Homo sapiens: one gene and its partners. The protein of the gene in region 2 interacts with the protein of the main gene of each other region in a pairwise test. Each region holds a gene or a part of one and is shown on either strand. Other genes may lie near its edges. The genes, in order: MAPK1IP1L, PDCD6, PRR19 and KDR.

Region 1 (3,790 bases), on a different chromosome or scaffold from region 2:
TACAGGTGCACACCACCATGCCTGGTTAAAGCATCTCTTTTAAGTGAAAAGATTTACGTAGCCCAGTTAGGACCATGTTGTTTTTCTTAAGAGATGAAAAACTTATCACAGATAAACTGATCAACTTACCGAAAATTCATCAGACATTTTCCTAAAAAAAGAAAAGAAATGAAGGAAGAAAGAAAAATTTCAAAATCAGTGTTCACCATTTCTTAAATATTCCTTAAGGAACTTTCTATGCATACATTATTATTACTTAAGCGGAATCTTATTTATGTAATGTGTTTTTCTTTACATAGGAAAGTTTTCCATAATAGTTCATACAGCTCTATTAACTTCATCCCTTTTAATGGCTGCACATCATACAAAAATGATTTGCAATTTAATTTACCTTCTTTTTGTAGCAGTATAAGTTGTTTTAAGTATGATACAGTGAACATCTCTCAACACTTCTTTGTTTGTGTGTGAGAATCTAACACCAGGAAAAAGCACTGGACATGGAATTTAGAGTCAACAGATAAATTTATCTAAAATCCATTTGAAAAGTCCATGCCAATTTACACTCATTTCTCTAACTCCTTTTACCACTGGATATTATTAAATTTATTGTTTATAATGACAATAGATATTAAAAATTAGCGTCTTATTTTAACTTACATTTCCTCGTCTTTTTTTTGGAGACAGGGTCTCATTCTGTCACCCAGGCTGGAGTGCAGTGGCGAGAGAGATCACAGCTCACTGCAATCTTGACCTCCTGGGCTCAAGTCATCTTCTTGCCTCAGTCTCCCTAATAGCCGGTACTACAGGTGTGTGCCATCATGCCCAGCAAATTTCTTAAAATTTTAAAAATTTATTGCAGAGACAGGTGTCTCACTATGTTGCCCAGACCCGGTCTCAAACTCCTGGGATCAAAGGACCCTCCTGCCTCAGCCTCCCAAAGTATTGGGATTATAGCCATGAGCCACTGTGTGTACTCCCAAATTTAAATTTATTGATGTCCTGGAGTACTTTTACCAATTTTTAAATTGAAGTGTAATTAGCACTCAACAAAATGCAGAGATCTTAAGTGTTCAGATTAACAAGCTCTGATAATTGTATACGCCCCTATAACCACCCCAAGATACAGAACATTTCTCACTCCAGAAAGTTTACTCATGCTCTTTTCCAATCAACTACCTTGCCTCATGGCAGTCAATTTTTGACTTAATTTTGCTTGTTCTTTGACTTTATATAAATAAAAGACTGTAGGTACTCTTTGCCTTTGATCATTTTATTACTCAGTAGCACATCTTTTTCTCTCACTGCTTTGTAAGATACTAAGCAGACTAGCTTTCATATATGAGATTAAAATTTTTTGGCCGGGTGCAGTGGCTCACGCCTATAATCCCAGCACTTTGGGAGGCCGAGGCAGGCGGATCACGAGGTCAAGAGATCGAGACCATCCTGGCTAACACGGTGAAACCCCGTCTCTACTAAAAATACAAAAAAACGATTAGCCCAGTGTGGTGGCGGGTGCCTGTAGTCCCAGCTACTTGGGAGGCTGAGGCAGGAGAATGGCATGAACCTGGGAGGCGGAGCTTGCAGTGAGCCGAGATTGCGCCACTGCACTCCAGCCTGGGCAACGGAGGGCTACTCCATATCAAAAAAAAAAAAAAAAAAAAAAAAAAAAAAAAAAATTTCTCCAAAATTCCTTTTATCTGTAGATCTCTTAAAGGGCATATTTTGGTTATACAAAAGTTTTAAATTTCATGTCATCAAATCTATCAATGTTTTCCTATACGTGGCTTCTGGATTTTGTGATATATTTACAAAGGCCTTCCCTACTCTGCCTTGCTTTCATATAGTATTTTTATGGTTTAACTTCTTGTTTAAAACCTTTAAATTCTTCCAAACAATAATTATCAACTATCTATCTTTTCTCAGCTAATTGGACAAGCTACCTTTACTACACTATACTGCTGCCATTTATAACTAGCATCTATCCAATATTTACCATGAAACATGGAACATGGTGGTGTACTGTGCACCACCTCACTTGGTAGCTCCAGAACCCAGATACAAATTTTATTTTCACCCCCAGTTTACAGCTGGAGAAGAGGAAGCTTGGCAAGTTAACTTGTTTAAGGTCCCAGAGCTAATGACAAGGAGAGAAGCAGTTCAAACCCAGTATGACTCCAGAACTTAGGCTCTTAACAAGCAGGCTATAGAGCCTCCTTCATTTCCCACAGATATTGTGGACTTTATTCTTTTCTTTTTGAAACAGTCTTGCTTTGTTCCCTGGCCAGAGTGCAGTGGCACCATCATAAGCTCACTGCAGACTCGACCTTCTGGGCTCAATCGATCCTGCCCAGCTAGTTTTTTTGTAGAGATGGAGTTTCACCATGTTGCCCAGGCTGGTCTTGAACTCCGGAGCTCAAGTGATCTGCCTGCCTCGGCCTCCCAAAGTCTTGGGATTACAGGCGTGAGATACTGTGCCCAGCTGACTTTATTCTTTTCTACTGGTCTGCAACTGTACCATTCCATTTTAATTACAGAAGCTTTACAATATATTTTAAATAAACATTAATGTGAGTCACCCTACTGTCTTTTTTTTTTTTTTTTTTTTCAGATTTTCCTATGTATTTTTATTTTTTCCAGATCGTTAAAAAAAAAAATTAATGTGTTAGCATTCTGGTTGGAAATGTATTATATTTACAGATTAATCTAGGGGAACATCTATTTAAAATGTCAAATCATCTCGTTCAAGAACAAGGTATAGTATAGTCCCTCGGTACCTGAGGGAGATTGGTTCTAGGACCCCCATAGATACTCAAATCCCAGGATGCTCAAGTACCTGATATAAAATGGTGTAGTATTTGCATATAACCTATGCACATCTTCCCGTATAAATCATCTCTATATTATTTATAATACTTAAAAGTGTGAATACTATATAATTATATTAACTTATATTTTCTATGGTTATTTTTATTGTTTCCCCCAAGTATTTTTTTTTTTTTGAGACAGGGTCTCACTCTGTTGCCCAGGCTAGAGTGCAATAGCATGATGTCAGCTCACTGCAACCTCCATCTCCTGGGTTCAAGAGATTCTCCTGCCTCAGCCTCCTGAGTAACTGGGATTATAGGCAAGCGCCGCCATGCCCGGCTAATTTTTTGTATTTTTAATAGAGACAGGGTTTCACCACGTTGGCCAGGCTGCTCTTGAACTCCTGGCCTCACGTGATCCGCCCGCCTCAGCCTCCCAAAGTGCTGGGATTACAGGCATGAGCCACCGCACCCGGCTCCCTGAATATTTTCTACCCGCAAATGCAGACACAGAGGACTGTTTAGTTCCTGTCCTTTTCATGTAGTTTATTTTCTTGATCAGATCTCCTATATACATTTCTTTTAAGGGATTTCTGTTAAACTTTTCCCTGTGGTTGTAAATAGGCTCTTTTCTTCTACTGTATTTTCTAATTGTTCGTTCATATATGGGACAGGGTTTTAAAATTTTAGTCTATAGCAGGTCCTCGAAAGACGTTTCATTCAACTTTGTTTTGTTATAATGTTGATGAGAAGAAAAAACAAAAAGTCTCAGCTGAGGTCACTGTCTGTGTGAAGCTGGCTCATTCTCCCATCTTTATGGGTCTTCTCCAAGTACTCCAGTTTCCTCCCATATCCCAAAGATGCACATGAATGGATGTGTCTACGCGGCCCAGTCTGTGAGCGTGGGTGTAGGTGAGAGCACCCTGTGCTGGGATGGCGTCCAGTTCAGGGCTGGTTCCCAACTTGGACTCTGAATTGCCAAGAAA
Region 2 (3,790 bases):
GACCCTCAATCTAAAACATCAGCTCCTCTCCGGATCTCCAGCTGTAGGGCCCTCAAACTAGAACCTCAGCCCCTCCCCGAGTCTTCAGCTGCACAACCATCAAACTAGAACCTCAGCTCCTCCCTGTGTCTCCAGCTCCACAACCCTCAAACTAGAACCACACCAGTTCCTCCCTGGTCTCCAGCTCTACGACCCACCAATTAAAATAACATCAGCTCCTCACAGATCTCCATCTGCATGACCCTCAAACTAGAACACCTCTCCCACCTGGATCTCCAGCTCCACGACCCTCACAGAACAGCCAAACCAGCTCCTTCACTGTCTTCAGCTCCACAACCTAAGACATCAGTGGCAGCACCAGCTCTTCCCTGGACCTCCAGCTCAACGACTCTCATAGACTTAAAAGGCAGCACCGGCTCCTCCCCAAGGCTCCATCTCCACCACCTTCAGATTTGAACAGCGATAGCACCAGCTCCTCTCCAGGTCTTCAGCCCCAAGACCCTCCCTGACCAATCCCTTCTTACGAAATTCAGCAGTCAAGAAAACTGCAGCAGAAGTAAATGAATAAATGTTTTGTTTTCAAATCGATGTCTCTTTTATGTTCATGAGTTAACTTTTCTACTTTCCATTAGCCTTGCAATCTACTTATGTCCAATGTGAAACAGAAACACACCATTTGAAATCACGTTTAAAAACTTAGTAGTATTTTTAAAGAAAATCACCACACAGCTGTAGATGCGATCTTATTTCTCTCTGCCTGTGCAGAAGTCTTATGAAAATTCGAACTATGAATTTACTTTGTTGAGATTCCCAGAATACACATTAATCCCAACTGTTACTCCCCTCCTTAAAATCTTTTAACATATTCCCATCACTTGAGCATAAATGCCAGCTCCCATCCACAGCCCAAAGTGCCCAGCACGGCCCTGCCCTCTACCCTGGTCTATGGTCTCCCCTCTTAAATGCCAGCTCCCATCCACAGCCCAAAGTGCCCAGCACGGCCCTGCCCTCTGCCCTGGTCTATGGACTCCCCTCTTAAATGCCAGCTCCCATCCACAGCCTACAGTGCCCTCACAGCCCTGCCCTCTGCCCTGGTCTATGGACTCCCCTCTTAAATGCCAGCTCCCATCCACAGCCTACAGTGCCCTCACAGCCCTGCCCTCTGCCCTGGCCTGTGGTCTCCACTCTGGTGCCTGGCCCAGCCCTCCCCACCCCTCTGCCCTGGCTTATGGTCTCCCCTCTTAAATGCCAGCTCCCATCCACAGCCCACAGTGCCCAGCACAGCCCTGCCCTCTACTTCGGTCTATGGTCTCCCCTCTTAAATTCCAGCACCATCCACAGCCCACAGTGCCCGGCACAGCCCTGCCCTCTGCCCTGGTCTATGGTCTCCCCTCTTAAATGCCAGCACCATCCACAGCCCACAGTGCCCAGCACAGCCCTGCCCTCTGCTCTGGCCTAAGGTCTCTCCCCTGTGCTGTTCCCTTCCTGCCGGACAGGCCTCTATCCGTTCCTCAAACCACACAGGCTCAGGCCTGACTCCAGGCCTTTGCCCTGCTGTGCCCTCTGCCTAGGGTGCCTTTCCCGGGCTCTGCATCCTCCTCTCAACCCGCTGAGCTCCAGCCTGCTGGTCGCCCCTCAGGTGGATGAACACATGGTGTCCTCTCGCCCCGCTGGCTTTTGCACAGGCTCTTCTCTGTGCCAGACACAAACCCTCTCTATCGGGGTTTACTCTCTAAATACCATTCGTCCTTGGAGTCTCCACTGAAATATCGCTCCCTGCCCACCCCCCTCCCTTGGACTTAACCTTGGTTAGGTTGCCAACCCCCGTCTCCTGACTCCGGGAAGCTAGATGCTCTCCTAGCACTCGGAACTTGCCCATCGCCACATTTTGCACACCCGTGATTACTGGGTTAGGTTGGCGCACAAGTCATCGCAGTTTTTGCCATTACTATTAATGAACTGCAGCACCGGCTCCTCGTTTTTTTTTTTTTTTTTTTTTTTGCCATTACTTTTAATGACTGCTGCACCAACCTATTAGAATCATTTATATTTATTCATCCATCATCTGCCTTCCCCTCTAGAAAGGAAGCTCCATGAGAATAGAGGCCAAATCTACTCAAATAACTCCACCTTCCCACACATTGTCAATAATCATTTACCAACTGACTGATAGAGAAATGCCTTCCCTGTTGCTGGGATGAGGCACATGACACGCCCCTTTGAAAGTCACTGTCATGGACAGTTGGCATTTGCTCTTCACTGCTGCACCCGTGGCGTGGCTGGGCTTAGGCTGATCTAGTCTGGCCTTGACTCTAGGCTGAGGGTGGGAACCATGCCTGCTCCACACGCCTCTCATTCCACAGCCAGAGCCGCCGTTCCCTGGGGCACGCATATCTCGTGGGGAAAATCAAGAGCCTAAGAGGGCAGGCCTGGCAGTGCCACACATTCCAGGCTTCTGCTTGTGCCGTGTCTGTGAAAATCTCGTTGGCAGAAGCAAGTCACCCAGCCACAAGCAACACCTATAAGTCCATCCACCCTCCCTCCGGCCCTGGCAAGGATGCGGCTGCGTCATACTCTTAGGGGGGAATGAAAAACTGAGGCCCAAAATTAAATCACCCATGGCAAGAAATGTCAGTCTCTGTGTCCCCACACTGGAATTCTTCTTCACCAGCGGGTTTGCCTGAGCTGACTTCCCTTTGCAATGGTGTCTGCAGGTTTAGGCCAATGCTGTTCCCCATGGAGGACAGAGAAGCCTCAACGGGCCTCTCTGTTGGGAAGAACAAGATATTAGCTTGGCGCGAAACAACCGCAAGCCACAGGTGGCCCACACCCCGTGAGACAGGAGAGGGGCAGAGAACTGTGGGAACTCAGGAAAGCTTGCATCCCTAGCCCCTCCCATGTCCCCAGCCCCTCCCGTGTCCCCAGCACCCTCCCCCGCATCCCCAGCACCCTCCTGTGTCCCCAGCACCCTCCCCTGCATCCCCAGCACCCTCCCCTGTGTCCCCAGCCCTCTCCCCTGCTTGCCCCATCTCTTTCTTTTTTTCATTTTCTTTCTTTCCTTTTGTTTTATTTGAGACAGGGTCTGGCTCTGTCACCCAGGCTGGAGTGCAATGGCACGATCTCGGTTTACTGCAACCTTCACCTCCTAGGCTGAAGCAATTCTCCCTCCTCAGCCTCCCCAGTGGCTGGGACTACAGATGCACGCCACCATACCCAGCTAAATTTTTTTTTTTTTTTTGGGAGAGACAGGATCTGCCATGTTGCCCAGGCTGGTCTCAAATTCCTGAGCTCAAGTAATCCTCCCACCTCAGCCTCCCAAAGTGCTGGGATTACAAGCATGAGCCACCGAGTCCAGCCTGCTTTATTTTTCTCTACAGTACTTGGAATCTTCTAATATACTAAGGACACGTGTATTTTCTTTCTGTCTTCCCTAGAACAGGAGCTTAATGTGGGCAGGTATTTTTGTTGATCTCATTTATCACCCTATCCCCAGTGCCTGGACAGGGTCTGGCACATGAATGGTGTGTTCTAAATAAATATTTTTAATAGATAAATAAATGAAATATCCTACAAGAGAAAGCTATATCTGGAACTCACCCACCAACAGAACCTAAAAGCCAAAGACCTTTAGCCTGTCTCTGCCTCTGAACACACCCAACCCCGGAGGAGCCAGCAGAGGAAAAAGAGGACAAAGGTGGGGAAGGGAGCAGGTGGTGCCCACCAAGTAAGGAACCCTGAGGCTTAGGCGGAACCTGAGCTGGAGAAGGGACTCATCTAGGAACTGGGTATG
Region 3 (3,381 bases), on a different chromosome or scaffold from region 2:
AGCTGGATTCGGTGGCCCACACCTGTAGTCCCAGCTGCTAGGGAAGCTGAGGTAGGAGGATCACTTGAGCCCAGGAGTTGGAGGTTACTCTGAGCTATGATTGCATCACTGTGCCCCAGCCTGGGCAAGAGAGTGAGACCTTGTCTCTTAAAAGAGAGAGAGAAGATGAGAGAAAATAAGTGAGCAGAGAGAGATTGGAAAAGGTTTGGTCAGATAAGGAATCACAGGGGTAAGATGAAGTCGAAGGAGTCACAGCTAATGGGAAGATAAGCCAGGAAACAGAGAGAGGCTATTAGGAACAGGGACATGGGGAAACAGTTAAAAGATGGAGGGTGAGCCGGGCGCGGTGACTCACACCTGTAATCCCAGCACTTTGGGAGGCCGAGGCGGGCGGATCACCAGGTCAGGAGATGGAGACCATCCTGGCTAACACGGTGAAACCCCATCTCTACTAAAAATACCAAAAATTAGCCGGGCGCGGTGGCGGGCGCCTGTAGTCCCAGCTACTCGGGAGGCTGAGGCAGGAGAATGGCGTGAACCCAGGAGGCGGAGCTTGCAGTGGGCCGAGATCGCGCCACTGCACTCCAGCCTGGATGACCGAGCGAGACTCCATCTCAAAAAAAAAAAAAAAAAAAAAAAAAAAAGATGGAGGGTGGGGGCCAGGCGCAGTGGCTCACGCCTGTAGTCCCAGCACTTTGGGAGGCCGAGGTGGGTAGATCATTTGAGGTCAGGAGTTCGAGACCAGCCTGGGCAACATGTGAAACCTCGCCTCTACTAAAAATACAAAAATTAGCCGGCGTGGTGGTGAATGACTGTAATCTCACCTACTCAAAGAGGCTGAGGCAGGAGAATCGCTTGAAATCGGGAGGCGGAGGTTGCAGTGAGCCGAGATCGCGCCACTGCACTCCAGCCTGGGGGACACAACGAGACTCTGTCTCAACAACAACAACAACAACAACAACAACAAAAGATGGAGGGTGGTGAAGGGGTCATGAGATTGGAGGGATTTGGGGGACCAGAAAGTGATTCTGGACGGAGAAATCCAGGGGTAGACGAGGTACAGGGGAATGCAGAAAGTGGAAAGAGATAGTAGAGAAAGAGAAGCAGGAGAGGGAGAGCAGCAAGAGAAGTCTGGAAAGCCTGAGAAAACCTCAAGAGAACAGGAAGGGAGACAGAGGCGCGATCAGGGACAGGGCCTGATCACAAAGGAAGGGCCTAGGGTAGGAGAGGAAGCATGGTGGCCAGCCGCGGTAGGGCAGGGTGGGCAGAGTGAAGGGAGTGGGGTACGGTTGGCAGGAGCAGGGTGTGGGAAGGGCACCTCTCTCGCCCCAACGAACCCCGGCCCTTCCCACTTCACGTAGCTGTGGGGCGCAATGGCTTCTTTTCCGCGGTGACCCCAGCTCTCGAAGTCACCTGGCGCTGTTCCGGGCCTCGGGCTCCCCCACACGCATGCGCGTGCCCTTTCCATGCCCTTTGGCTTCGTGGCTCTGAGAGGACGGAAACCTAGCGGCGCGTGCCAGGGAAGCGCCGGTTATAGCCCCTCCCCTCCCAGCCTCAATTTCAGAAATCTCCCTTTCTTGGTCTCAGCACCTCCCAGCCCTCAATTGGCTGTGAGGTTCACTAGGTCCGCCCCCTTCCTGAATGCTGATTGGTTCAGATAGCTATCAGCGGTCTTTCGAGGGCTAGTTGAGACCAGGCGTGCCAAAGGGAAGAAGGGTCATGGTAGCCCCCATGCACAGCTGTCCCCCAAGCAGCCACAGACATAATCCCTAGAAAACTTATACAGTTGGCCGGGCGTGGTGGCTCACGTCTGTAATCCCAGCACTTTGGGAGGCAGAGGCAGGAGGCTGGCTTGAGCCCAAGAGTTCAAGACCACCCTGGACAACATAGGGAGACCCTGACTACAAAAAATAAATTAGCTTTGGGCGTGGTGGCTCACGCCTGTAATCCCAGCACTTTGGGAGGCCGAGGTGGGCGGATCACGAGGTCAGGAGATCAAGACCATCCTGGCTAACACGGTGAAACCCCGTCTCTACTAAAAATACAAAAAATTAGCCGGGCGTGGTGGCGGGCGCCTGTAGTCCTAACTACTCGGGAGGCTGAGGCAGGAGAATGGCGTGAACCCGGGAGGCGGAGCTTGCAGTGAGCCGAGATGCATTTCAGCCTGGGCGACAGAGCGAGACTCCGTCTCTAAATAAATAAATAAGCTGGGCGCAGTGGCTCTTGCCTGTGGGCCCAGCTACTTGGGAGGCTGATGCAGGAGGATCACTTAAGCCTAGGAGGTGGAGGCAGCAGTGAGCCATGATCACGCCCGCCTGAGGGAGACGGCAAGACCCTGTAAAAGAACAAAAATTAGGCCACATGCATTGGCTCACGACTGTATATTCAGCGACTCAGCAGGCTGGGGCAGGAGAATTGCTTGAACCTGGGAAGTGGAGGATGCAGTGAGCCGAGATCACACCACTGCATTCCAGCCTGGGTGACAGAGAAAGACTCCATCTCAAAAAAAAGTTAGTGTAGTGTTGTGATTCATAGCTAGGCTTGGTTTAAATGCCCAAAATGGCACAACTGGGCTGTGTGACCTTGGAAATGTTTGTAACTGGTCAGACTTAGTTTTCTGACCTGTAAAATTGGGTTGGTAATAAAACTACCTTCCTCATTTGGTTGCTAGAAGGATAAACTAGACCAATATGTCTAACTTGAAATGGGCCTGGTGAATGAAGAATGCCTGGAAGCTTTGTTTCTCACTAAGCTTTGCTTCAGGAACTGCTCCAACTTATCCTCTAAGACTTTATTTTTAAAAATTTTTTTCTCGGTTGGGTATGGTGGCTCACGCCTGTAATCCCAGCACTTTGGGAGGCCAAGGCAGGTAGATCACGAGGTCAGGAGATCGAGACCATCCTGGCTAACACAGTGAAACCTCTTCTCTATTAAAAATACAAAAAATTAGCCGGGCGTGGTGGCACACGCCTGTAGTCCCAGCTACTCAGGAGGCTGAGGCAGGAGAATCGCTTGAACCTGGGAGGCAGAGGTTGCAGTGAGCCGAGATCGCGCCATTGCAGTCCAGCCTAGGCGACAGAGCGAGACTCTATCAAAAAAAAAAAAAATTCTCTCTTATATCACTGACTTGAAGGCATAATTAAGACTTTTTTCTTTTCTTTTCTTTTCTTTCCTTTTCTTTTTGAGATGGAATTTAAATCTGTCACTGAGGCTGGAGTGCAGTGGCACAGTCTGAACTCACTGCAACCTCCACCTCCCGGGTTCAAGCGATTCTCCTGCCTCAGCCTCCCAGGTAGCTGGGACTACAGGCGCAGACCACCTTGCCCAGCTAATCTTTGTATTTTTTAATAGAGATGGGGTTTTGCTATGTTGGTCAGACTG
Region 4 (3,790 bases), on a different chromosome or scaffold from region 2:
CTCGCCCAAGGTCACTCAGTTAACGAACGGCAAAACCTGGAACAAACCTAGACACTCTGACTTCTGAACCCAAACACGTAAACCACCTCATGTTAAAGGAAGGTGTAAATCTTTAGAGAATGCATTCCTGCCACCATCATCTGAGTTTTTCATTCTCTCTCCCTCTTCCTCCCTCCCTCCCTCTCCACTCCCTTTCCCTCTTCCCCTTTCTTCCTTCTCCCTTCTCTCACTTCCTTCTTTCTTCTCTCCCTTTTTCCTTTCTTTCTTTTTTGACTCCAAAGTCAAAACTATTTCCTTATTACTGTCAACCTAAAGCCTCAGATTATGCTTTGAAGACTTGACTTCTTTTTTATGTTTATTTCATATAGCAGAGAATTTGCTAAAGTGAATAAAATATTTAGTGGCTTCATGAACTGATGAAATGGGCTATTTGCTGTCCGTGTTTTGTTTTTATTTCCTGTTCATTTCCTCCTCCCATCCTACTTATACACTTTCCAGTTTCTCCTCTCCCCAGTCCCCTACACCTATGCTGCTTCTAAACAACCTTTTTGGAACCTGTTAACTTTTTTTTTGAGACGGAGTTTTGCTCTTGTCACCAGGCTGGAGTACAATGGTGCGATCTCGGCTATCTGCAACCTCCACCTCCTGGGTTCAAGTGATTCTCCTGCCTCAGCCTCCCAAGTAGCTGGGATTACAGGTGCCCACCACCATGCCTGGCTAATTTTTATATTTTTAGTAGAGACGGGTTTTCATCATGTTGGCCAGGCTGGTCTCGAACTCCTGACCTCAGGTGATCCATCCGCCTCGGCCTCCCAAAGTGCTGGGATTACAGATGCAAACCACGGCACCCAGCCTATCTTTAAAATATTCCCTGAAAAAAAATAATAAAGCCAAGTTCAGCGGCCTACAGAAGAGTATCAGGACACGTAGGGAAGCACCTTAATGTCATGGGAAAATATCCTGAAGTTTTAATATGCCGTACCAGAAGGGGGAACAAAGAATTACAACAGAGAAGCATTTCTCAAACTGTTTGGAGTGAGAGATTAATGAATTTGCTCAGGGGAAAAAAGGTGCTCTGGTCAAATAGGTTTGTTAAACCTTGAATACTCTATGTCTCTCCTCCTGGAGAATACCAATATACATTAGCATATAAAAGGTTCTGCGAAGTCCTGCAATAAAGAAACCTGTTACACATCTACACATCACCTTAGCACCTCTCACACTCACTTGACCATGGCACCCTTCTCCCCACTCCATTCCAAACACTTATTTGTACCTTTCAGTTTCAGAAAACAAAGTTCAAATTATCTTTACATCAAAAACTTACTATCTTTCCTTTACAGACTCAAAATCAGATCCTGAACTCCTGTCAAAAAGGAAAAAAGAAAAGCTCCCAACCAAGCCAACAGTGTCAACTTCAAAAGCCTTCAGAGTTGGAACGTGCCTGCACATCTCTGATACATCAACTACAACATCAAACTAGAAGCTTTGCACAAAATCTAAGGAGAAGGGTCTTACACATCTGTGTACCAGGTGGGCAATTCCATGAGAGGGGAACATGGTAGTATAACTTAGCTTGACAACTGTCCCTGTGGGCATTCTTATTTCACAACATTTAGCTATCGAGGGTATCACTACTTTAATCTTGCATTTGTCCACCACAAAGCTCATTTACACGGCCTCTTAAACAAACATGGCCAGAGCACATGGTCCTACGTTTCACTTCAGCTTCACCACGCCAGATGACTTTTGTACGCAGGCCCAGCCATGATATGAGTGAAGCAGCAGGAGGCAGAGGAACGGTGGTTTGGCTGATTTGGAAGACAATGTATCATAATAAATCTTGGGCAGAGAGGAAAATTGAATGGACTCACCATACACAACCAGAGAGACCACATGGCTCTGCTTCTCCTTTGAAATGGGATTGGTAAGGATGACAGTGTAATTTCCTGTGTCTCTTTCACTCACTTCCATAATCGTCAGTACATGCCCCGCTTTAATTGTGTGATTGGACTCAAGGGGTATTCCATTTTTATACCTATGAAAAAAAATTCTCAGGAATTAGTATAGTCAAAGGATTTGCTCTCACACGAAATGATGCTTTGCATTTATTTCCAGTAGTTACCATTTTATTTCTGGGGGTGGGTAACCAAGGTACTTCGCAGGGATTCTGACACGCTCCCCCACCGTGGCTTCCACCAGAGATTCCATGCCACTTCCAAAAGCAACAAAAGGTTTTTCTGGAAGAAAATAAAAAAAAAAAAAGGTCAACTTACTGTAAATGGTCATTTGATTTAGTTTTTCATTTCAAGTGAAACGTCAAAGACCTTGAGGGTCTGAGTAGCTGCAGTTCCAAGATTTCCTGTACTATCTTTCAGTGGGTCACTTTTCAGCTTCTCCCACACCTCCCGTGTTTCTCCCACACCTCCTGTGTTTGCATTTGCTTTTCTCTCCCCGCTAGTGCACTCCCACAAGCCTAGTGATTGCTCAAGTCTCAACTCAAACACTTGCTCCTCTGTGCAGCTTTCTCTAAGTCCCCCAGGGATGCTTGGGTGCTCCTTCTCCTCTGCTCCCATGACAGCCTCCACACACCTCTTCCACCATGAGGCCCCAGGACTCAGTCCTCAGACCTCCTCTTTATTTACACCTTCCTCTAGCCTCAGGTTTAAAGTATCATTCACGTACCTCCTAAATGTGTTATCTTCTGCCCTGACTCCTCTGGGTTCCGGGTTGATATGTTAAATATCTCCACTTGGATGTTTAACAGGCATCTCCAGATAAACATATCTAACACTGTTTCCCTAAATCTCACTGCCTTCTCGATCTTTGCCATCTCAGTAAATAACACCATCATTTACTCAGTTGCTCATGCTAACGCTCGAGTCATCTTCCACTCTTTTTCTCTTATACTCCACAACCAATGAATTGATCAGCGGACCCTGTTGACTCTACCTTCAAAATATATCCAGAAGCAGATCACCTCTCACTACCTCCACCTCAACTACCCTTGTCTAAGCCACCCCTCAACTCTCACTTGGATAACTGCAATTAGCCTCCCAACTGACCTCCTTATTTCTGCCCCTATTTCCCTGAAGTATTCTGGAAAACAAAAGTAATTCTATAAAAACATAAGCCAGAGCACATCTCTCTCTGTGTATTTTGACAAGTGCATCTTGGCAAGTGAAATAATTTAAATAAATTTAGGACACTTAGTGATTTCTATTTTGTTCATTCAGAAGAAATTTTCAAGTTCTTGCTAGGGATGCCACGTGACCTAGAGGTCAAGAGCATAGCTTTGTAGTCAGGAACTTGAGTTCCAATCTCAGCTTCAAAGATGAGATGAGCTAATAAAGTAAGTGCTCACTAAATCATACTTGTTATAGTTGTTGCCACTTTTATGATTACAACTCTAATAAATAGCATTATCTAAGGTATTTTTAAAATTTCACTGTATTGATGCATTCTCATAATATAAACTCCAAAATCCTTTCCAAGGCTTATAAGTAGGATGCCACACAAATTACCATGTAAACTCAGACATTTATGTAAATGAAAGAGAATAAACAAAAAATTAAGGTGATTTTCTCAAGGCCAGTTCAATTTAATTCCAGTTCAATTACAGTTGACCCTTAAATAACACAAACTTGAACTACATGAGTCCACTTATAAGCAGATTTTCTTCCACCTCTGCCACCCCTGAGACAGCAAAACCACCCCCTCCTCTTCCCCCTTTTCCTCAGCCTACTCAACGTGAAGACAAGGATGAAGACCTTTATGATGATCCACTTAC

Evidence for each region.
Region 1: the proteins of PDCD6 (region 2) and MAPK1IP1L interact in a two-hybrid assay, tested with the Homo sapiens proteins (one large-scale study listed by BioGRID and IntAct).
Region 3: the proteins of PDCD6 (region 2) and PRR19 interact in binary tests that used the Homo sapiens proteins (3 or more experiments, as listed by UniProt).
Region 4: the proteins of PDCD6 (region 2) and KDR interact in binary tests that used the Homo sapiens proteins (3 or more experiments, as listed by UniProt).

Annotation. Positions count from the first base shown.
Region 1 is NC_000014.9:55,058,041-55,061,830, reverse strand, and holds part of MAPK1IP1L (MAPK-interacting and spindle-stabilizing protein-like), read right to left. Parts: intron 677-3,790; exon of another isoform or gene 660-676; coding exon of another isoform or gene 658-659; intron 152-657; coding exon of another isoform or gene 148-151; coding exon 130-147; intron 1-129.
Region 2 is NC_000005.10:277,995-281,784, reverse strand, and holds part of PDCD6 (programmed cell death protein 6), read right to left. Parts: intron 1-3,790. UniProt on the Homo sapiens protein: Calcium sensor that plays a key role in processes such as endoplasmic reticulum (ER)-Golgi vesicular transport, endosomal biogenesis or membrane repair.
Region 3 is NC_000019.10:42,305,011-42,308,391, reverse strand, and holds part of PRR19 (proline-rich protein 19), read right to left. Parts: intron 1,536-3,381; exon of another isoform or gene 1,469-1,535; coding exon of another isoform or gene 1,319-1,468; intron 1-1,318. UniProt on the Homo sapiens protein: Promotes meiotic crossing over formation through its interaction with CNTD1 by participating in the crossover differentiation step of crossover-specific recombination intermediates.
Region 4 is NC_000004.12:55,108,529-55,112,318, forward strand, and holds part of KDR (vascular endothelial growth factor receptor 2 precursor), read right to left. Parts: intron 2,241-3,790; coding exon 2,126-2,240; intron 2,039-2,125; coding exon 1,875-2,038; intron 1-1,874. UniProt on the Homo sapiens protein: Tyrosine-protein kinase that acts as a cell-surface receptor for VEGFA, VEGFC and VEGFD. Plays an essential role in the regulation of angiogenesis, vascular development, vascular permeability, and embryonic hematopoiesis.